2 separate regions of the Homo sapiens genome follow, and region 2 is linked to region 1. The links come from fine-mapping of genetic effects on gene expression. A gene starts in region 1. The other region holds a variant in brackets. All regions are shown on one strand. Distances are between the middles of the regions. Region 1 holds the start of GRK5 (G protein-coupled receptor kinase 5). Region 2 overlaps GRK5 (G protein-coupled receptor kinase 5).

Region 1 (11,659 bases):
TGAAGTCACTAGAAGAGCAATAGGCAGTTTACAACATGTTAAAACTTTTTCTTTTTTTTTTTGAAACAGAGTCTCGCTCTGTCGCCCAGGCTGGAGCACAGCGGCACCATCTCGGCTCACTGCAACTTCTGCCTCACGGGTTCAAGTGATTCTCGTGCCTCAGCCTTCTGAGTAGCTGGGACTACAGGCGCACGCTGCCATACCTGGTTAGTTTTTGTATTTTTAGAAGAGACGGGTCTCACCATGTTGGCCAGGCTGTTCTCGACCTCCTGACCTCAGGTAATCTGCCCACCTTGGCCTCCCAAAGTGCTGGGATTACAGACGTGAACCACTGTGCCCTGCCCATAGTAAAACTTTTAATGTCCAATTGATAACCACTGAGGTCCATTGATGAAGGGAATTCAGAGGGGAGGAAATGTTAACTGGAAACCTCAAGCCTCCAGATTTGCTTTCAGCTCACATTTCTCCTCTTTTGGTGCCTGAAATCACTTCTTCCCGTTTGCAAAGTCCTTTGTGTGTGTCTCCACAATGGCCCTTATTCCATTGTATGGAGGTTGTTTGCATCCGGTGTGTTTTCCTTCCCAGTGGCGAGCTCCCTGGGAAATTGCCTTGAACTCCCTGCAGGGCTGGACACAGAAAGGTAAACTCTGAAGGAGAAGAGGATAAATGAGAGAATGGAAGCTCTATCTGCAGCTGCTTCCTGAGGATTAAAAAGCTTTGAGTCAAGGAAAGGAATGGAAACTCCAGTTCCTGGACTATTCAGAAAGCCAATTTGATTATTCAGGCAAAAGGAATCTATATTTTAGAAGGCCGATAGGTTTGTGGCTTTCCAGCATAGTAGACTTCTATTTACAAGAACTCTGACCCAGCAGCTTTATTCATGGCAGATACAGGTGCTGAGAGAAGAATTTGAAGGTTCCCTGTTTCTTTTGCTTTTTTATTTTTTAGAGACAGTCTTACTCTGTTACCCAAGCTGGAGTGCAGTGGGGCGATCATAGCTCAGTGCCACCATACCTGGCTAATTTTTAGGTTTATTTCGTAGAGACAGGGTCTCGCTATGTTGCCTAGGTTGGTCTCGAACTCCTGGGCTCAAGCGATCTCCACCCCCCCATCCCCTGCACCCTTGCTTTAGCCTCTAAAAGTGCTGGGATTGTAGGCATGAGCCACTGCATCTGACTTCTTTTGCATTTTTGGCTCAGCTGCTCCTGAGTGGAGTCTGAAGCTGGCTGTCTTTGACATATTCCCATCCCTCCATCCTCACCCCCACTCCTCCATTTGGATTTCCCTTCTTGCTCTCAGCTGGCTGTCAATGATTCCCTACTTAGCTATTTATATTTAATAGCCTACTCTTCCTTGAATCAAACCCATTTTTCAAGAAGACCACGAGTTGTTAGTGCAGTTAATTGAAAGGAATAAAGCCATAATGGTGGAATTATAGATGAAAATGGAAAACCCCTTGAAATCTTAATGATTTAGTCAACTGGGTGCTTTGCCTTCTTATAATACAAGTTCATCCCGGCAGCCACACAGAACAGTTACTACCAAGCTGTGCTGGCTAGCTTGCGCAAGCCAGAAATTAAGTGCACCAACTCTGAGTCAGGCTGACAGGTTCAAATCCCGGGTCTTCTACTTATTACTTATGTGACCCTGGACAAATTATAAAACCTTTCTTTTTTTTTGAGGAAAAAAAAAAAGTCTCACTCTGTTGCCCAGGCTGGAGTGCAATGGCATGATCTTGGCTCACTGCAACCTCTGGCTCCCGGGTTCAAGTCATTCTCCTACCTCAGCCTCCCGAGTAGCTGGGATTACAAGGCACCTGCCACTACACCCAGCTAATTTTTGTATTTTTAGTAGAGACGGGGTTTTACCATGTTAGGCTGGTCTCGAACTCCTGACCTCAGGTGATCTGCCTGCCTTGGCCTCCCAAAGTGTTGGGATTACAGGCGTGAGCCACCGTGCCCGGCCTATAAAACCTTTCTTAACCTGGTGCTTTATCTATAAAATAGGCCTGTGTTCCCTACCTCATCTGGATATTGTGTTCAAGGAGATAATCCATTTAAAAGACCACAAGAGCCTGGCCCACAGTTGGTGTTGAGTAAATGCTAGCCATTATTGTTCCATTCTTGCATTGGAGTGTCTGAATTTCCTCATAGAGGCACAAAAACCTGATGTACAACCATGTATTTGTGTAGGCAGGATGCAACAGCTTGTAGTGGACAAAAAAATAGTCTAACACTAACTTGCTGAGTGACCATGCCAACTCACTTACTTTGGGTCTGTTTCACATCTGTAAAATGAGAGGGAGAGGCAGGGGTTCCCAGGATGGAAAACTTAAATGTCTATACAGGCCAGATAAATAAAATCACTAGTGACTTGGGCTGGGTATAAGACAATAGGGAGTTACGGTAAACTAGAAAGCTTTTCAACTCTGAGTGTGGTCTACTGACCACGAGGATCGACAGAGCCCTGGAGTTTGTTAGAAAGAGCAACATCTCAGAAACCACCCCAGATCTATCCAAATGCAATCTGCATTTTAACAAGATCCCCCGTGATTTGTATGCTCATGAAACTTTGAGCCAGGCATGGTGGCTTATGCCTGTAATTCCAGCACTTTGGGAGGCAGAGGCGGGTTGGATCACTTGAGTCCAGGAGTTCAAGACCAGCCTGGCCATTATGGCGAAACCCCGTCTCTACTCAAAATACAAAAATTAGCCAGTCATGGTGGCACACACCTGTAATCCCAGCTACTTGGGAGGCTGAAGTACAAGAATCATTTGAACCTGGGAGGCCGAGGTTGCAGTGAGCCGAGATTGGGCCACTGCACTCCAGCCTGGGTGACAGAGTAACTGTCTCAAAACAAAACAAAACAAAAAAACAAACAAAAACAACCTTTGAGAAAATTGTTTTTTTTTTTTTTTTTTTTTTTTGGTTCGGAGTCTCGCTCTGTCGCCCAGGCTGGAGTGCAGTGGCGCGATCTCGGCTCATTGCAACCTCCGTCTCCCGGGTTCACGCCATTCTCCTGCCTCAGCCTCCTGAATAGCTGGGACTACAGGAGCCCAACACCACGCCCGGCTATTTTTTTTTTGTATTTTTAGTAGAGACAGGGTTTCACTGTTAGCCAGGATGGTCTCGATCTCCTGACCTCGTGATCCTCCCGCCTCGGCCTCCCAAAGTGCTGGGATTACAGGCGTAAGCCACCGCGCCCGGCCCAAGAAAATTGTTAAGGTGCATAAGCCATCTAAAGGCATTCAAAAATTTTCTTTCTTTTTTTTTTTATGTTAGCCGAATAAACAAACTTCGGGCTTCATCAGGCCCTATGCTGCCAGCAAGTGACCAGCGTGGTTGGTGGAGGGCTCTAGGAGCTGCCAGCTTTAGGGGTCTCGCTGTCTGAGAGAGATCCTTTCATTAAAGGTTAGGGCTCTAGGCACGTGAATATGTAGCAAAGACCAAGCCTGGATTGCTTAGAACAGTAATTCCTGGAGTGGTAAGTGCCTGAAAAGTTACCCGCTGAGCCCTCCGCCTTCTGACAGGTAAACTGTTGTTGCCCCCATTTTGCAGACAAGATAAATGAGGCCCTGGGAGACTCACTGACCCAAGTCTAGACACCAGGAAGTGGTGGTGGTGGGTATACTCCCCCAGGAAAGCAGGTAATCTTGGGTTGTTACAATCAGTGACCAGACCAGTTTCCAAGGCCTGGAAGGTTTATTGATTTCTTTATATTCTCCAATGCATAATAACTGTTCTCTGTTTCTCTCGGCACCTCCCTGCGACTTCCTGGCAGCCCTGGGGACAGAGGGTTTCCTCCTTCTGGACAGAGAAGGCCCAGAGTCGGCTTCTGAACGGATATCCGGCCCGCAGGATGCAGAGGAGGCAAAGGCCTCATTGTTCTTTGGGGCCTGCCTGCCCCGCCCCCAGCTGTAGGACACTCGTGGCAGATCCCGGGTGACCGAAGACAGCCCATTTCCAGGAGTGGGGCCTTCGGAGCGGAGGGAGCAAGGAAACGGGGCTGAGCACAGACCTGGAGTCTGATGTTCTGAGCATAACACTGGAAGGAGCTAAGAGCCCCAAAATAAATAAGACCGGAATTTAAAAACGTTAATCCCACGCCGGCTTGGCGCTGGCCTGGCTGTTACTCATTAACGCTCCCCACGGCGGAGACTCCGGCGACTCCGTCTGCGTTTTTATTACTTAATCTGGCTGGGTTTGGCTGCAGGGAGGCTCGTGGATTTGCTGGCCGGGTGTGCTGGAAGGCAGTTTATTCACAGAATAAGCAGCTTCCCACGCTGGACCCTGAGCCCCAGGCGCCGTCCGCGTAGACCCCGCGCCGCGCACCGCGGCCGGCGGGGGGCGCTCGGGTCGCACCGAGAGCAGCGCGGGCAGCCAGCGCCGGGTCGCAGCCGACCCGCAGAGCCCTTCGCGCCCTCCGAGGAAACAAAGTGCATCTTTGTCCGCGGCCCGAGGCGCCGCGTGGGAGACGCTGGGCAGGGGCCAGGCCGGGCCGGCCGCCGCCGCGTGCGGGGACCCTGGGCGCGCGTCACTGACCCGGGACTCAGACCCTCGCGGGCCTGGCGCGGACCGGAGGAAGCGGGCTGTGGCGCGCGGCCGAGCTGGCAGCCCTCCCACTCCGAGCACGGCTCGGGACCCGCACTGGCTCCTGCCGGGCCGCGGCGCTTCACGCGCCGTCACCGGGGCCCGTGCACTCCGCTTTCCGGGCTGGCGACGGGGCGGGAAGGGGGCAAGCGGGAGCCTGCGGGGGGGTGCTGGGGACTTCGGCTTGGCTGGGCCGCCTTTGAGTCGCCTGTCGGCCGGGCGGTGCCCGCCTTCGCTTTCGGTGCCGTCCCGGGGCGGGTCCTCGCTCCGACAGCCGCGCGCCAGCCCAGCTCAGCCCCGGCGCCGCGCGGCCGGGAGGACTCCAGCTCCCAGCAGGCCCCGCGCCGCGAGCACCGAGGCAGGAGGCGCGCCTGGGCCGGCGCTTGCGCAGTGCGGCCGCCCGAGCCTGCTAGTACCACACCCCCGGGAGGGACTGAGGGGAGGCAGAAGCATCCGAGGCATTAAAGCATCCGAGGGAGCCGGAGGGGAGGAGAATGGAGTGACAGAGACACGCGGAGGGTGGGGGGTGGGGGGGAGCGTGTTGAGGGAGGGGGGAGGGGGGACACAGAGGGAGGAAGAAGCGGCGGCGGCGGCGGCGGCGGCGGCGGCTCCTCTTTGCAGAGGGGGAAACTCTTGGGCTGAGAGCAGGAATAATGCGGTAGGCAAGGCGGGCTGCTGGCTCCCCCGGCTCCGGCAGCAGCGGCGGCAGCCCGAGCAGCGGCAGCAGCAGCGGCAGCACCCCAGGCGCTGACAGCCCCGCCGGCCGGCTCCGTTGCTGACCGCCGACTGTCAATGGAGCTGGAAAACATCGTGGCCAACACGGTCTTGCTGAAAGCCAGGGAAGGTAAGAGGCAGGGCCGGTACGTGCCCGGCGCGTCCGCCGCGGGCCAGGGTGCGGGTGTCGGGTGGCGTGCGGGCTGGGGCTGCGCCCGTGCAGGATGCCCGCTGCCGGCGAGTGGGTCGCGAGCAGGACACTTCGGAGAGCGGCTCTGCAGACCCTTCAGGGTTCCTGCCTTGGGGCTCAGAGAATCTGGACTTGGGCTGAGAAGGTTGCAGGGATTTGGATGCTAACATATCTCCTAGTTTCCAGCGCTCGCCCTGCAGAGCGTGCCATCTCGGCAGCTGTTGAAAGGTCAGTTGGAAAAGCATTCATTCGGGGAGCGACGAGCAAACATGCACATAAAATAGCGTTTCAAGTCGGCCCGGGATGGTTCTGTGTGAACTGGTGTGTGTGTTCGAGGGGCGGGGGTGGAATGAGCAGAAGCCAAGTCTTTGCCTGCGCAGGCTGAGTTGATATAGACTATTGCTGGAAACCATCCGCTGGGATGTTTCTTAGGGAAATCCCGTCGTGTGGAAGGAAGCCTTTTAAAGGCAAAGTCAGATGTTGAGGAATTAGCCTTTTCATAGAATTATCAAAGGATGGCTGTACAGACCACCTAGAAAATAATTCAGTATTTCAGGTTTTTCTTTTCTGGGAGTGTGATAACTGAAATTGTTAGATTTTGGCTCAGTTAAGAAAAGAAAGGTAAGTGTGCTGGTGCTTTAGATACGTTTTCTATGCAAATCATTAGATTTCCTGCATTTAGCTGGCAGGAAATATTGTCTAAATGGAGTGTGTAAGATCCTGAGTCAAACCCTAAGAACGCATATTTTGACTCTTCCTTTTGATGAAAAACAGAAAAAAGGGGGGGGAGGCAGAAACTTGGGTGCTTCCTGAAATGATTGTGTTGTGTCCATGTAAACATATGTATTTAGGAATACCTGGAATTTATGTCGCATATTTTCCTTTTTTTTTTCTGGTCAAGATTTGAGCTCTAGTGTGCGACCTTTTTCATAAAAGGGGAAGAGGTTTTTCCCTTTCACGGGAGAACGCTTTATTTGATACAAGGTAGAAGGCAGACTGAGTAAGGGCTTGAGTTTAGAAGGATACTCGGTGAGCAGCCCATGAAAATGTCTTACCTGCTTAATATTTTCATTCACCTACTTTGATGAATGAAGGGAAGAATTTCTGGCCAGCAATAAAACGATTCGTGTTTATTCAGCCCGTTCCATCACCTTGTGGCTCCCTACACACTGTGGGGGTAGGTGATGCATAGCCTTCCGTGGGCAGCGTTTCAGCAACTCAACCCGGCATTCGTGTCTTACTTTCGTCGTCACTTGTCACTCTAAAGCAGCCAGTGGGCAAGAAGGTTTATTTCAGAAGCCCCGAAGGGAGGCAGTGCTTTGAAAACCCCAGCAGAGTTTAAAATATTCAGGTTAGTCTCCCTCCCATTGCTTAGCTTTGGTGGGAATAAATTTTTAGGAGAGGCTTGTTACTTGGTGACTTCAGGTTCTAAGGCCTGAGCTGTGTGTGTGTGTGTGGTTTTTTTTTTTTTTTTTTTTTTTTTTTCCTAACCTGACATTTTTAGTGGACAGGATCTAGGTGGGTGCTGGTAGGCTCTCCTCTGGGTTGGGGAATGGTCCTGAAAGGGAGGAAGCAGAGAAAACAGCCCTCCACCTCCCCCGCCCCTCTTTCAGCCTTTGCAGCTGGCCACCTAGTGGTGGGACACGGTTGTGTATCTCAGGATTCGGGGGCTGGGAAAGTTTTCACTCTCGCTCCATTCTGAAATTATTTCTTGGGAAATCACTGGGTCTGATGGTACTGGAGCCTTGCAAGTTTCGCTGGTTCCTCCTGTTGCCCAGGGAATCTGCCCCCGACATTTGCTGCTGTAGATATTTGTTTGCCTGATAGATGCTTTTTTTCTTCCCTGAGCATTTGGTTGCTTCTTTTATAATGCTTTGCTTAGAGTGGGCAAAGTGATATCAATTCCACCCGCCCCCTCCAAATTGTTCTCCCCAGTATTTTTTCACCAACGTGAATTTACTGTCTGATATTGTTGTTCGTTAGGCCAACAAATTGGGTTTTTTTCCCAGAGCCTTGGAGAAGAGAGCTGCAGGCTGGAAGCTTGTGTGGAGTGACCGACTCCCATTGGGGCAGAATTACAGTGATTGAAAGTGCTCAAGAATGTGCCTTTCACTTTTTTTTTTCCTTTTAAAGGCTTTTTCAATTTTGCTGTGAGAGTTTGGTCGTCATCTCATGGTGAGAAAATAGCTCTTGATGATGCCTTGGAAATGGAGAGGGCCTGCGGAAGCAGGGAGAGACTGACACGTGAACAAGAAAAATTAATCATTTAATGGAAACCTCATTTACAATTTGCATCTCTCCCCTTCTTTCTCTCTTATGCCTAGAGGAAAGCCATGATTTTAAGTGCTTCCAGTTTCTTTTGGCTGGGCCTTTATTAGAGACTTGAGCCCATATATCCTAATTAGTGTGGACACTTTTAGAAATTAAAGCAATTTATGTTTCTCTTCTCAGTTCTCATATATTTGAATTTATTTTACTAAACTTAGTAGTTCTCCAAATAACCATATTATCTAAATATTCAGAAATGAAATCTTCAGTCAGTTTAGTGAAATATCTAATATAAAACAGTATATTAAAAAAATCTGAGTTGTTTAAAAGGTTTAAAAACACTTCTTAAAGATTCTTGTCAGTGGTTACAGATGAGAAATATAATTGGCAAATGTGAAATTTAATTTAGTTCACTTAACAAAATACACCGTAAGCAATTTAAAATTTGGCTTTCAAGTAAAAGTCACATTTGTCCCAAACAATAGAGAAACAGACCTTGAAGAAAGACAGGCACACTTTGAAAATGCTGTAAAATAATTTGTAGTTGTCCATGTTGGTGGGTAACACTGGGACCTATCTTTTCTTTTTGTTTTGCATTAAAGACAGATGGCTCCTAAATTCACTGTATCTTCAAAGTCTTACCGTAATAAGACATAATATAAAGTGGAAAGCATTAATGTAGCAATAAAATAGAAAGCCTGTAAGTGGATTAGAGTAAAATGATGGATTGTTAGTAATTAGAAAATATAGCAAGCAAGCTTCATGAACACTTGTGATAATTATTTTAAAATAAGAAAAGGTAGAGGTATGGGTTCAAGATTTTGAACCACGGAAATGTATTTTGGGGCCTGTTTATTTGTCCTGGGTCTCATGAGAAAACATCAACTCGATCACTCTTAGGAACTTTAGATTGCTCTCCTAAAAAGTGCTTAAGGAAAAAAAGAAAGAAGTTGAGACTGAATTCATGGCAATTTATGGGAATGAGCTAAGTGATTAAGCATTTCATGAAAAAGAGGCCCAGACTAACTCTATCTATTTATTTACATTTCAGAATCTCAGAAAATTGGCAGGCGACCTAATGTTGAAATAATAATGAGAAGGAGAGTTTGCTGAGTGCCTTTTGTGTGTTTCTTTTTGGTTTTATTGTTGCAGTAAAGGTTTTTGTGTTTTTCTCATCTTCTAGATCTGTTGCCTTTCTTCTGAGTGAACAGTGGTGAGAAAAAATTTTGCAAGGCCCCGCTTTTCCTTTCTTCACAGGCCAGCAGTAGCCATATCTGATCAAAAAAGATACCTGAAGGAATATTGATCACATTTTCCTGAGGCCCTAGCAAGCACAGGAATTGAGAAGTTAGGACTGGAACAACTTTGTCATTTGTCACAATTGCCAAACATTAGAATACACAGGAACCGTTTTTTCAGGTAACTCTGTGACTTGGCTGGATCTTCCTGATCATCAAGATTAGCACCTCGGGGCCTGGAAGAGGTTAGGGAGGGCAGGAAGAAGGAGTGAGCCAGCATCCAGCTCTGCGTGGGGCAGGCTATGGCGTGGACAGACTTAACATTCCACAGCACGGCTGAAAGCCCTGGACCTCTTTCCCTTGCACCCCTAATTCATGGTGATAAAACCAAAACATGGTGAATTAGGTTATTAGAACGTTGGAACATCTCTGAAGCTCAAAGCCCTCTTATGGCTATGTGAAGGCATACGTGGAGGCATACGTACTCCACCCTGAAGCTTCTCCTTCAATTTTAATGTTAATCTTACCAAGCGACAGCTTTCATCCTGGTTAAGGCAGCTCGGTGTGTGTAAAAGCAGCCTGGCCTGTTAAACACAATGCCGTTAAATCAAACTGCCTTTCTTTTTTTTTTTTTAAAGTTTCCTTTTCAGTACTGACAACTTGGAGGTAGAGAAACCAAAAGCAATGTTTTCAGAAGGCCTTTTGCTTTCTTAAAGATTTCAAACGATGATTGTAGTTAATCTGGCTGCCTGTTTGAAAAACCATCAGATAAATGCCCACAAGGCTCTCATCTTTCAGTAGCTTAGCTGCTGCTTGTCAGATTCTAAACTCCAAAGTGCTTGACTCTTCCAGTGCCCAAACTAATCCTTGTTTAAATTATGTCTTCAGAAGCTATAACTCTTATAGTGGCTTGCTAAATGATACCCTTTGGATCTGGGCTGAAGACTTCCAGAATGCCCAAGTGAATTTCAGGAGCGGGCTCAATGTTTAACCAAATTCACCTTTACCAAGGGCTATTCAATCCATATCTGGGATGTTTTAAATAAAACTATCCAGGACTGTGGGCAATATTCAAAGTTAATATTTGTTGCCAATATGTTTGGAGTGCAAGATAAAGCATTATAATGTCTAGACATTTTTGAAATAAAAAAGTCTTCTGGTTACCAAAAGGCATTATTGTCATAGGTCATGCAACTCAGAGGTGAAACTTGAGAAAACAGAAAGTGACTACCAACAGGTGACACATTGAGAAGATAATTAGGAATTTCCTCAATCATACAGCCCTCAGCACCCATTTCTCACATCAAAATAGAATGGTGGAGCCGAGTGCGGTGGCACAGCCTGTGGTCCCAGCTACTCTGGAGGCTGAGGAAGATCATTTGAGCCCAGGAGTACTGGTCTGGAGCGAACTATGCCTATTGGGTATCTGCAGTAAGCTCGGCATCAATATGGTGACCTTTCGGGAGTGGGGACCACCAAGTTGCCCAAGGAGGGGTGAACTGGCTTGGTGGGAAACAGAACAGGTAAAAACTCCATGCTGATCAGCAGTGGGACTGCATCTGTGCATAGCCACTGCCCTCCAGCCTGGGCAACACACAAGACCCTGTCTCTAAAAATAAATAAATAAATGAATGGAATAGAAGAGAATATTGAAGACAAGGGGATGAAGGCATGATTTTAAATGACTAAAATGGTCTGGGCATGGTGGCTCATGTCTGTAATCCCAGCACTTTGGGAGGCCGAGGCAGGCGGATCACCTGAGGTCAGGAGATTGAGATCAGCCTGGCCAACATGGTGAAATCCTGTCTCTACTAAAAATACAAAAATCAGCGGGGTGTGGTGGTGCCCGCATGTAATCCCAGCTACTCGGAAAGCTGAGGCAGGAGAATCACTTGAACCTGGGAGGTGGAGATTGCAGTGAGCCAGTATTGCACCACCGTACTCCGGACTGGGTGACAGAGTAAGACTCTGTTTCAAAAAAGAAAAATAAAAAATTAAAATGTATTATGGCCTTAAATAATAGGGTTGATTTCCACTTTAAAACATATCCTGTTATATTTCAGTGAAAATTTTTATTTAAAAATATTCTAAATATTGAAAAGATGTATTTTGGGGGGGCAGAGATAATGTCATTCCTTTTATTACCATCCAAAAACTGGAAGAAGCATTTCATTTTGTGAAAACTGTGCTGCTTTTAAAAGAGAAAGTCCTTACTTCCTGACTGGACCCTTCCCCCACCCCTGCTTCTCATTTTGAGGAAACCATTCTTGAATAGGCTTCTGAAAATCTTACAAGAGTAAAATTTATTTGTTCAGCATTTGGTTGTTGAAGGACCCAGTGCGGAGGTGACATTCGGGTGTCAGCCTCAGATAATACAATGTGAAATGACTGAAAAGATGCAATTGGGCACTGCCGTTCTCTTTTTACATGTTTTTTTGTTTGTTTTTTGTTTTGTTTTGAGACAGAGTCTGCTCTGTCGCGCAGGCTAGACTGCAGTGGCGCAGTCTGGGCTCACTGCAACCTCTGCCTCCCAGGTTCAAGCGATTCTCCTGCCTCAGCCTCCTGAGTAGCTGGGATTACAGGCGCCCACCATCAAGCCTGGCTAATTTTTGTATTTTTAGTAGAGGCGGGGTTTCGCCATGTTGGCCAGGCTGGTCTC
Region 2 (11,659 bases), 43 kb after region 1:
AGAAGAATCTCTTGAACCCAGTAGGCGGAGGTTGCAGTGAGCCAAGATCGCACTACTGCACTGCAGCCTGGCGACAGAGCAAGACTCTTTCTTAAAAAAAAAAAGAATTCAAATCGGGATCTCAAAGAGATATTTGCACTCCCTTGTTCATTGCAGCATTATTCATAATAGCCGAGAGGTGGAAACAACCTCAAAGTCTATAGGTAAATGAATGAAATGAAAAAACTGTGGCGTGTTCGTGCAATGGAATACTATCCAGCCTTATTAAAAAGGAAATCCTGCCATAGCCACAACATGTATGAACTTGTAGGACATTATCGTAAGTAAAATAAGCTAGTCACAGAAGAACAAATAATGCACAATTCCATTCATATGAGAAATTTATAGTAGTCAAACTCATAAGAGAATGGTGGTTGCCAGGGGAGAGGGAAATGGAGAATTGTTGCTCAGTGGGTATAAAGTTTCTGATATACAAGATGAGAAAGTTTGAGAGGTCTGCTGTATAACATTGTGCTTATAGTTAATCATACTGTGCACTTAAAAATTTGTTAAGGCCGGGCGCGGTGGCTCACGCCTGTAATCCCAGCACTTTGGGAGGCCGAGGCGGGCGGATCACGAGGTCAGGAGATTGAGACCATCCTGGCTAACATGATGAAACCCCGTCTCTACTAAAAAAATACAAAAAAGTTAGCTGGGCATGGTGGCGGGTGCCTGTAGTCCCAGCTACTCGGGAGGCTGAGGCAGGAGAATGGCGTGAACCCGGGAGGCAGAGCCTGCAGTGAGCCGAGATCATGCTACTGCCCTCCAGCCTGGGTGACAGAGCGAGACTCCATCTCAAAAAAAAAAAAAAAAAAAAAAAAAAGAAAAAAAGATAAATTTGTTAAGAGAACAGATCTCATGTTGTGTTTTTTAAAATCACAATAAAAATATACAGTTATCCCTTAGTATCCTTTGGTCATTGGTTCCAGGTCCCCCCTTATATACTAAATCCATGGATGCTCAAGTCCCTGATATAAAGTGACATAGTATTCACATATAACTTATGCACATCATCATCCAAACTCTAATCTCTGGATTACTTATAATACCTCATACAATGTAAATGCTGTGTAATAGTTGTTATACTGTGTTGTTCAGGGAATAATGACAAGAAAAAAGTCTATATGTGTTCAGTACAGACGGCTTTTTTTTTCCCCCTCAAGAGTTTTCAGTTGGAGGGTGGTTGAATCCATGGATGTGGAACCTGTGGATAGGGAGGGCTGACTGTATGTGTATACCAAATCATGTAAATTTTATAATAGTTTATTTTTTGTTCCTGATGTAATGGGAAGCATTTGGAAAACATAAAATTGATCCCATCACAAAAGAGGAATTAAGATTGCCTTGGGTTAAGGGTTAAGTAATGTCCTATCACCAGTTAATCTGCCAAGGATGTTGGTCATGGCCACATTCAAGAAGTGGTGTCTGGAGGCCACAATGAGATGGCCCAGTTCAGACATCGGCTAGAATTGTGTGGCAGAGCGTACAATTATGTCACGAATTTGGGATTAGCATGGCATACCTAGTTGAGGTTTAAAGCTCCCTCCTGCACCTTCCAAAGCAGGTGTTGCTTGGGGTTGAAAACCTTCACTGTTTGGTCAACAGAAGGCCCTCACAGCTCTGATGGGAATGTCACCTGAGAAGGGCTGGTCTCCTCGTGGATTTGCATTTCCGCACCTTCAGACACTGCCTCAGCCAGCTGCTGTTTTAACTGGCACAGAGGGCCTCGCTGAGAGCCTCTTGGGTTCTATCCAGATCTGAGAAGGAATCTGGGATGCCGGGGTCAGATCCGTGCCCTGGCCCGAGGATGGGATTTTGTACCCCGTTGCTTTCTGCAGTTGTGATGAGGTGGTGCTTGGCAATGGCCTGGAGCTCGGCATCTGAGTGACTGTCCGTCCTAGGGCGTCCAACTCCAGACCTCTCTTACCCAGGCCAGCGGAGGGCGGAAACTCTGAGAACATTCCATTAGAATAAGATACGTTTAATAAGAGCAATGGAAAATGGTAAACCTGACTTGGGGAAAGGGAATGTGCTCTTTCATGTAAAACAAACAAACAAAAAATGTGACTGTGAGAAGCATCCAGAAAAATACGATGACCTGGAGGCTGGATTTAAAATTGGCACTGAGGGAAATCTCATTTCCACAGTCGATGACTCCCCCTTCAGCTATGTTCATGCCAGTGGAGCAAACCAAAATAACTTTATAAATTAAAGTTTATGTAGTCAGGAAAGCTATGCCTGGACTATCACACACCAGATGAAACCCTTGAAGGCTTTGTTTACAACCGACATCCTGGGGTTGGAGGTTAATAGTGTCTGGAGAAGGTTAGGTCATGCACATGTTTAATAGCAATTAAAACAAAATCACTGGTGATGGTCAAAGAGACACAGCTATGTTTATTTACTATAGTTTATGCCACCTTTGTTTGTTTGTTTGTTTTGCCCTCTGGAAAAAATGTCTTTGTCCTGCCATAATTAATTGTAACCAGCTTTTGTTTAGAGGGGGCCACATGGAAACTGCTCAGAGAGCTCAAAGTGTGTTGGCAAGTGGTGACTTGTAACTAGTACCTCAATCATTTTCTTTTATGATACACATAATAGAAGGATGCATTTGGGATGTAAAAGTTTCAAATTATAGGGGCACATATATATACAGACAATCATGAAAGTCCCCCCCACCCTGCCTGGCTGCTGACATTTGGTGATAATCTTTCCAGACATCTTTCTAAATGCTGACTGTTTATATGTGAGTGAACAAGTGTTTATATCCATATGCACACAAATACGTAATTAGCTTTATTTTTATTTTAATTTCTTTTGAGACAGGGTCTCAGGCTGGAGTGCACTGGTGTGATCATAGCTCACTGCAGCCTCAACCTCCTGGACTCTAGCAATCCTCCCACCTTGGCCTCTGAAGGAGCTGGGACTATAGGCATGTACCACCACACCCAGCCAATTTTTAAATTTTTGTGTGGAGAAAGGGTCTTGCCATGTTGCCCAGGCTGGTCTCAAACTCCTGGGCTCAAGCAATCCTCCTGCCTCTGCCTCCCAAAGTGCTAGGATTATAGAAGTGAGCCACTATCGCTGGCTGTTGTCGTTATTTTTGATCCATAAAAAGAGGGTCATGATGTGTGTGTTGATGTACAGCTTGCTTTTTTCACTTACACATCCAGAGTTCCTTCACACTGGCCCATGTGCAGATGACATTTTTTTAATCCTGCAGGGCGTTCCATAATATGAATTCTGTTCCTAATTTATTGAGCCATTTCCTCACCCTTTCTTTTTGATACTAAATGAAGCAATGATAGCATGAGATTATGAATGTGCCTTGTGGAGCTTAGACTGCCTGGCTTTGAAACAGGACTTAGACTAGATGAGTGACCTAGGGCAGGGGGTGGCAAGCTATAGCCTCCATGGCAAATCCACCCCGCTGTGTTTCTGTAGGGCCTGTGAGGCAAGACTGATTTTTTCATTTTTAAATGGTTAAAAAAAAAAGGTAAGTATTTCCTAATATATGAAAACGGTGTGAAATTCAAAATTCAGTGTCCATTAACTTGTTTTGTTGAACAGCATGCTCATTTGTGGATCTATTATCTAGGGCTTTTTTCATGCCACAGAATTGAGTAGTTGTGACAGAGACCATATGGCCCACCTAGAATATTTACCATCTGGCCTTTTACAGAAAACATTTGCCGACCTCTGACCTAGGGCAAGTTACTAATCTCTCCATGTCTCAACTTTCTTTTCTTTAAAATGGAGATACTAGCTGGGCGCGGTGGCTCATGCCTGTAATCCCAGCATTTTGGGAGGCTGAGGTGGGTGGATCACCTGAGGTCAGAAGTTCAAGACCAGCCTGGTCAACATGGTGAAACCCCGTCTTTACTAAATATACAAAAAAATTAGCCGGGCATGGTGGCGGGTGCCTGTAATCCCAGCTACTCAGGAGGCTGAGACAGGAGAATAACTTGAACCCAGGAAGCGGAGGTTGCAGTGAGCCGAGATCGTGCCATTGTGCTCCAGCCTGGGCAACAAGAGCGAAACTTCGTCTCAAAAAACAAAAAACGAAAAACAAAAAGGAGATACTAATAATACCTACCTTGTAGGGTGAAGTGACTTAATATATATATCAAATAAATATCATATGTAGAATACCTACTTTGTAGGCTTATCTAAGTTACTTAGTACATATATCAAATAAATATTATGTGACACACCAGGTATATCATGTATCAAATATGTATGAATTGTGTGTAAACACTTTAAACATTTTATTTTATTTTATTTTACTTATTTGAGATGGAGTCTCACTCTGTTGCCCAGGCTGGAGTGCAATGGCGCGATCTCGGCTCACTGCAATCTCCATCTCCCAGGTTCAAGCAATTCTCTTGTCTCAGCCTCCTAAGTAGCTGGGACTACAGGTGCGCTCCACCATGCCCATCTAATTTTTTAAATATTTTTAGTAGAGATGGGGTTTCATCATGTTGGCCAGGCTGGTCTTGAACTCCTGACCTCAGGTGATCTGCCTACCTCGGCCTCCCAAAATGCTGGGATTATAGGCGTGAGCCACTGCGTCCAGCTGACTTTGAACTTTTTAAATGCTCAAAAAAGTTTACTATTACTGTGTCATTGTTATTGTAAGTGCATAACTCTTTGTGCACGTGTGCAAGGATGTCACAGATACCTGGCAGTGGGCTTAAAGATGAAGGGTCTTAACAAATTGCCTTCCAGAATGGCCCCACTAAGTCATGCTCCCAACAGTGGAGTCTCTGCTTTCCCGCATTCTTGGCAACTCTGGATAGGGACTAGGGCTTAGAAAAGAACACTGAATCCTCAAAGAGCCTCTGACCTCCACAGAGGCTCTTCAGAGTCTAGGAGTGCTGTGCCCAGACCTGTGGGGTGAATCTCCCTGGAAAGCCTTCAGTCAGAACATGCTCATTGTTTGTTGAGTGAGAGTCTCTTCTGTGTTAAGCCTTTGACCTGTAAATTTTCATTTTACAGATGAAGAAACTGAGGGGCTCAGAGAAATTAAATCACCTGCTCCAGGTCCTGAAGCTACTTGTGGATGTAGGGTTTGAACTCAGTTGTGGGGGCCTTCATACAACTTTCTTTGCCATTCTCCCTAATTCCAGGAAGGATAAGGCAACGTCAGAGATAGTCATTTTCTTTAACTTTTTCTTTTTCTTTTATTTGAGGCAGGGTCTCGCTCTGTCACCCAGGCTGGAGTGCAGTGGCGTCATCACAACCTATTACAACCTTGATCTCCCAGGCTCCAGGCATCCTACAGCCTCATTTAAATTTTTTTTTTTTTTTTGTACAGTCAAGGTCTCACTTTGTTGCCCAGGTCTTGAACTCCTGGACTCAAATGATCCTACTGCCTCGGCCTCCCAAAGTGCTGGGATTACAGGCATGAGCCACTGTGCCTGGCCCTACACCACATATTCCATCCACACTTTTTCCTTAAGTCAGCACCTTGATGACTGGATCAGAGCTACACACAAAAT[T/G]GGAAGTGAACGTTGGAGAAAGTGGCTTAGTCATGACCTGTGTTTATCTCCTCTTGCTCTGAGTAAAGAGGATGTGTAATAGAGTATGTTACTATATTTTTCATATCCCGATGCCATAGCCTGTGCTGCCCAGTCACACTGAGAACAATGCAGTTCTCATAGATAACCCGTTGTTGGGTGATATGTCTATTTCTAGGCATCTCCACGCTCTCCTATCGAGGGCCTTTGCAACAGTATTTCCCATGTTCCATCAGCGCGTCTGCAAAACATGAAGCAGCTTCATTCACCCAGAGACTCCTGACCTTGTGCATGAGGGGAAAATGTTTCTGGTTTTGTGTGTGTTTTCAATGACGAACATTTGCATTCTTTCCTCCCCTCACTTTTTTTTTTTCTCACGTTGACATTAAGAAACAACAACAAAACGCTGCTTGCTCCCAAACTGTTTGAATTTAAAACTCTGAATCTTAATTTGCATAGACAGTAGTTCTTTACAAGGAATGTGAACCATTTGACAGAATTTCCTGAAGGAACAAAGAGCCATGATTTCCTGATTAAAACCATGTTAAAACAAAAAGCAGACTATAACCAAAAGGCTCTGTAAGAGTATTTCTTGTTCAATCAGATTTCAAAGGCAGCACAAGCTGGATGTTTATGGCATCACCAATGCCTTTCTGTGATGCCTGAGCTTTTCAAGAACATACTCAGAACTTTGTCTTAAGCCTGTCTTTACTCGGAGCTGTCTCCCGAAGCCTTGGCCTTCCTCTCCGCAGCTTCAGTTACTGAGTCACTGGAACAGAGGAAGAAGCCCAGGCTTCCATTCTGACAGGCTGCGAACATTTATCTGGAGTTGTAATTGTCATACTCCCACGTTATTTTCTTGCTGTCTTCTAAAGCGATGATGAAAGATGTCTGGGGGAAAGAAAATAAAACAAAAAACCTTCTAGCATCTACACACCTAAAGCAGGGTTTGTCAACCTTGACACCGTTGCCATCTGGGGCTGGATAATTCTTTGTCATGGGGGCCGGCCTGTGCGTTGGATGATGTTTAACAGCATCTGTGGCCTTTAGCTTCATAGTTATGACAACCAAAAATGTCTCCAGACTTTGTCAAATGTCCTCTTGGGGGTAAAATTGCTCCTGGTTGAGAACCACTCGCCTCGATTTTGGTGGTCTAGAATTTGCAAGCTGCTTCTCCGCCCTGTGCATATCCAATCCTCAGCCCTTCCACTAAGGATTAGAACTTGATTTTCTTCTTTTCATCCCACCCTCCCTGCCTTGAGATATTGCTGCATCTGGACAGATGTGCCAAGTACAATTCTGGCTCAGGTGACTGAAGTCTAAGTCAGACATATGTCTTCACTCTCCCTGACCATCCCTCTTGCTGCTGGCCTGCGTGGCGTGCTCGTGCCGATAGGGGCAGCTGTGTGAGTAGCAGGACCATCCTGGAGACAGCCATGCAAAGGGAAACCATCTGGGTGGGGTGAGCTTGCCAGCCCCAGCTACAGGTCCTGGTGGAGTTGACAGTTGATGGATCACTGTGCTGTGACCTCTGGGCAGCCCAGGCCTGCGACGGGCAGAGAGCTGTCTTGTTTCTCCTTTTGGAACCTGAAGGGCAGAGACAGGGTGAAGTTGCCAGGAGAGGCTTTCAGCTGGATCCTAGGGGCCAGCGTGCAGCCCTTTCCCAGGGCTGGGGGTAGGGGAGAAGTGTCTCTCTCTGGGCCGTGTGGATGGGCCAGAACCCTGAGCTGGGTGCAGAGGGCTACGCTGGAGAGGCGGGGAAGGGCACTGGACCGGGTGTCTCGAGACCTGGGCATGGTTTTAGTTCTACCCCGGGTAGCAGCACGATCTTGTGCAAATAGTGTCTTCCTTCTGGTCCTCATGTTTCTCGTAAAGCTGACTTCCAACTAGAACAGTCTACCTTTCTATTTTTCTCCTGATTTGTAGAAAAAGATGGTGCTGTTAAGAGACGGAAATGTGGCCTTCCTAAATTTGCTTTGAGTCCTGAGTTCCTGATTTGGGGGCAAGTGTCTGTGAAGGGCTTGGGGTCACTCTGTGGCTTTTGCCTCATTTTTATGGGTCGTAGAGGATACCTCAATAAATAGCATTTTTCTTCCCTGAACAAATTGAGAGATGAGGCCATGGTTGAAACTTTGAACTTTGGAACTTGCCCAGATGTATCAGGTCAGTCACCCTCCTCCCCTGGGGCCAATAAACCAAGTGTTCCAAAGGCCAGGTGGTCTTAGGGAAAATGATGGACCCTGAAGGGTGAGGGTCATGGCCAGTGTGGACTACAGAGGATCCCCTAGCCACACTGGAGAGGGGACAGTGCCCTGGTTTTCCTGATACGCCCCCTTAGTGCTCAAGGCTGGTTTCAACCCTGCTGTACTAATCTGCTGATGAGGGAGAGTTGGTGGCTCAGTGGTGACAGCACAGGTTTGACAGAGGGTGTCTACACCACCCAGTGCCCCCTTGAGCTCACATCTGAGGGTCTGTTGAGATTACAGAGGCCCTTGATAGAGTCCGAAATTTGAAGGACAAGCAAGGAAGATTGGAGCATCTGTGAACTATCTCCAGTTCAGCATTGCATTAGAAAAGGAATTACATCAGGTCACTGATGTCTTCTCCTAACTCAGTGATCTCCACAGCCCCCTGGATCCTGCCAGGCCTGTGGAGAAGAGGGACAAGCCAGCCTCCCCACCACCCCTGCCCTCCGTTCCTTTTATATTTAAATCAGAAGCTTAGGCTCCTCCGTGTAGCTGCTCTATTTTTCATGCCTCTTGCCTGGGTCTAAGCCCTGGAGCTTAGGGTGCTGTGATATGCTTGCGGGATGCTGCCCCACCACGGCTGGAACCAGGGCTTCAGCCCGGCGCACACCCAGCTCGTTTGGAGGTCACGGCTCACCATAAAAATGGTGTGAGTGGCCAGCTCTTTTTTCACTGTGGCTCTGGGCAGCCCAGCCCAGCTCCGGGGTGGATGCAAGGCCTGAGAGTGAACTTTGTTGTGAATGATGACACAATTCCAGAAAAATGCAGTGTCTCCCAGATACGGCTTCTGGAGCTTTGCCTGGGGTGGGGGGCTGGAGGTTGTTTAGTGTTTGGGTTCCTGGTGGTTCTTTGCCCCAGGGGTGTGTGTGTGTGTGTGTGTGTGTGTACACATGTGTGTGCGTGCATGCTTTTTCATGAGGCACACTTATTTTCAGATGTTCACATGGACTCTTTTTGAGATTCCCCAGGGGAAAAGGAGAAAGTACAGAAAGCCGTGACACCTGATGGAAAATATTACGCTTTAGTCAACAGGGCTGATGTGTCTCCTCTGACTTTGCCTTTAAACCAAACCACACCACAGCGGGGAAAGATGAGCCACACATGAGGCCTGCTGGGCCGGTGACTGTCCCCTAAAGTGGGACTCTTGTAATTCTAAGCGCCTTTGAAAAATGCTTTCAGAATCATCCAGTACTTGAGTTGTAGGGGGCCTGAAAGGTCATCTTGGCCCAGTGGCTTGTTTTAAAGGAGGAGGAAACTGAGGGCCAGAGAGGACCTATGACCCTCCCAGGGTTGCACAGCTAGAACTCAAATCCTGTCTCTTGATCCTCAGAGAAGGGTTTGGTCTGTTCTGTTCTGCCCTACTTTAGTTTTTAGACAGTGTATTGTGATAAGTTTTAGATTTTTTTTTTTGTACTCTGCTCTTATTCATTCAACAACTCTGGGGATTTACTGGGGAACAGGCAGACCTGGTCCTTGTGCTCAGGGGGCTTACAGCCTAATGGGAAAGGCAGCTTGGAACAAGAAACCGTGCATGGGATTTGTAGCGGGTGTGGCTATCTTATTTCTGGCCAGTATGGGGAGGGAGAAGGGGTGGGAGTTGATGGCTGGGGCACGGAGGATGTCATTTCAGCTCTGTGGCCTGGGTCAGGTGCCCAGCCCAGCAATCTGAGTGTGGATGACTCTGGACTATTTCTCCAGGAGGAGGTGGGATTCACAGGCAGAGACATATCAAAACAGGGACCTTGGGATGTATGATGTATTTTGTAAGAAAAAAATGGAAAAACAGGCCGGGCACGGTGGCTCACGCCTGTAATCTCAGCACTTTGGGAGGCTGAGACGGATGGATCACCTGAGGTCAGGAGTTCGAGACCAGCCTGGCCAATGTGGTGAAACCCCATCTCTACTAAAAATGCAAAAGTTAGCTGGGCATGTTGGCAGGTGCCTGTAATCCCAGCTACTCAGGAGGCTTAAGCAGGAGAATTGCTTTAACCCAGGAAGCCGAGATTGCGCCATTGCACTCCAGCCTGGGCGACAGAGCAAGACTCAGTCTCAAAAAAAAAAAAAAAAAAAGAAGGAAAAACAGAGTAGAGCAGGAAGCTCTGTGTATGTATGCGCAGGTAAGGTCGTCAGGTGGGAGGAGGCCAGGAGATGAGCCATTTGGAAGCCCGGAGGTGGCCTTGACTTCCCTGATGGGAGGAGAGAGAGCTGCTGGGAGAGATAGGATCCAGGGAGGGGTGTGGCACAGGCTTCTGGAGGGACAGCAGCTATGGCCAGAGGTGGATCTCTTATTCTCAGGGGTATCAGGGACCCAGGCTCTTTCCACTTGGAACACAAGATAGCAGGGGCCTTTGTCACCAGCAGGATGGAAGCTGACACACAGGACACCCCTTCCAGGAAGCTTTGTCACATCGACTTCACCTAACTCCAATGACCTCTCCCTTCTGAGTCCCTCTGCACTTAGAGGCTCTTTCTGTTTGGACTGAGTGGTGGTTTTGGAAAGGCTCTTGTGTGATTTTCACTGGCGTGGACTCTTCCCCAGATGCTCACTTTGTACTAACACCGCTGGCTCATTATCACAGAGTCATGGAGCAGGCACTGAGACTCAGAGAGCTCTGTGGCTGCGCAAGGTCAGGGTAAAGGTGGGACTTCAGCCTCACCAGACTCCAGAGCCTCTGGCCGTTCCCGCCATGCCTGCTGCCCCCTGTCCTGGTGTGTTTTCTGCCCATTCTCCCAGACACGGGCTCCTTGAGGGACAAGGTGGTGAGTTAGCCCTCTTGCTTCGAGCCATCATTTATCATGGATTGTGCTAGCAGTCGTAGGTACACAGACGAGCAAGGCCTGGCTTTGCCCTCGAGAGCTGACCGGGTTGTAGAAGCTGGGATGCAGGGAGGGCTCTGGGCCCAGGGAACAACCACTTGAGGCAGCCAGGGAAGGCTTCTTGGAGGAATGACACAGGAGCTGGCTTGGGCTATATAGTCTCTCACTTTGCTGAACTTCCATTTCCTAGTAAGTAACTTGGATATGACTGTGAAGTTATTGCAACCATTGTGTAAAATAGTTATTCAAGCAAACCAGTTTGAAACCCTTTGCAAATAGAAGACACCGAGACTTGGTATTGACAGTCCTCTGTCAGGAGAGGATCCCAGTCTTGGCCCAGCCTCCACTGCACACTGTCCCAGGAAAGCCTCCCAGAGCCACCCTCTCGCTGCCTGCAGGGCTGCCCTTCAGTGGCCTCGACTCCTGTGGAGACTCTGCATTCCCGGCCAGATTTGCCTTTCCCTCTGGGCGGACCCCCCCACACACCTCACAGCACCAGCCTGGGAGCTTGGGAGGGGGCGTGAAACCAGCAGGTGGGAGTCTGGAGTCCTGGCTCCGGTAGTCGCCAGCCACTTCTTGTCCCCTGGTCCCTCATCCTCCATCCTCTAGGCCTACTCTTCTCTTTGCAGAAAGGCTCCTTGGGGTTCAGAGAATGTAGGAAACTTGTTGGAGCTCACACAGCTGAGTAACAACCAGGCCCTGCTGCCTCCTGTACACAGTATTTCCTGCTGCTCTCTGGGTACATGGAGTGGGAAGGGGAGGCCCTGGGCCACAGCACCCCACCCCTCACCTCTATCGCACCCCACCCTTCACCCCTATTGCACCCCACCCCTCACCCGTCGCCTCTTTATTCTATCTCTGAGGTCGTGACTGTGTCTCTGGTAATGAATATTTTGCTTTGGAACATCCCCCCTCTTTTTATTGAGAGATAATTCACGTACCATAATATTCTCCACTTTAAAGTGTAAATTTAATAGTCTTTGTACATTCACAATGTTGTGCAACCATCACCACTATCTAATTCCAAAACACTTTCAT

Evidence for each region.
Region 2: its variant is fine-mapped to the expression of GRK5 in whole blood (TOPMed, PIP above 0.99).

What each region holds. Positions count from the first base shown.
Region 1 is chr10:119,202,536-119,214,194 of GRCh38, forward strand. It overlaps GRK5 (G protein-coupled receptor kinase 5), which reads left to right and starts at 5,036. Exons shown (of 16, transcript NM_005308.3): 1 at 5,036-5,434. The coding sequence starts at 5,383. GRK5-IT1 (GRK5 intronic transcript 1) reads left to right here and starts at 5,886. Exons shown (of 2, transcript NR_186528.1): 1 at 5,886-6,115; 2 at 8,946-10,169. It also overlaps the pseudogene RN7SL749P. RefSeq lists enhancers at 3,543-3,622, 3,733-3,782, 3,803-3,912 and silencers at 4,253-5,082, 5,293-5,362, 5,413-5,462.
Region 2 is chr10:119,245,184-119,256,842 of GRCh38, forward strand. The region is part of intron 1 of GRK5 (G protein-coupled receptor kinase 5); the gene reads left to right. Among named protein-coding and RNA genes, the nearest start is that of GRK5-IT1, 43 kb to the left of the region's middle. The variant T/G (reference allele first, on the strand shown) is at 5,541.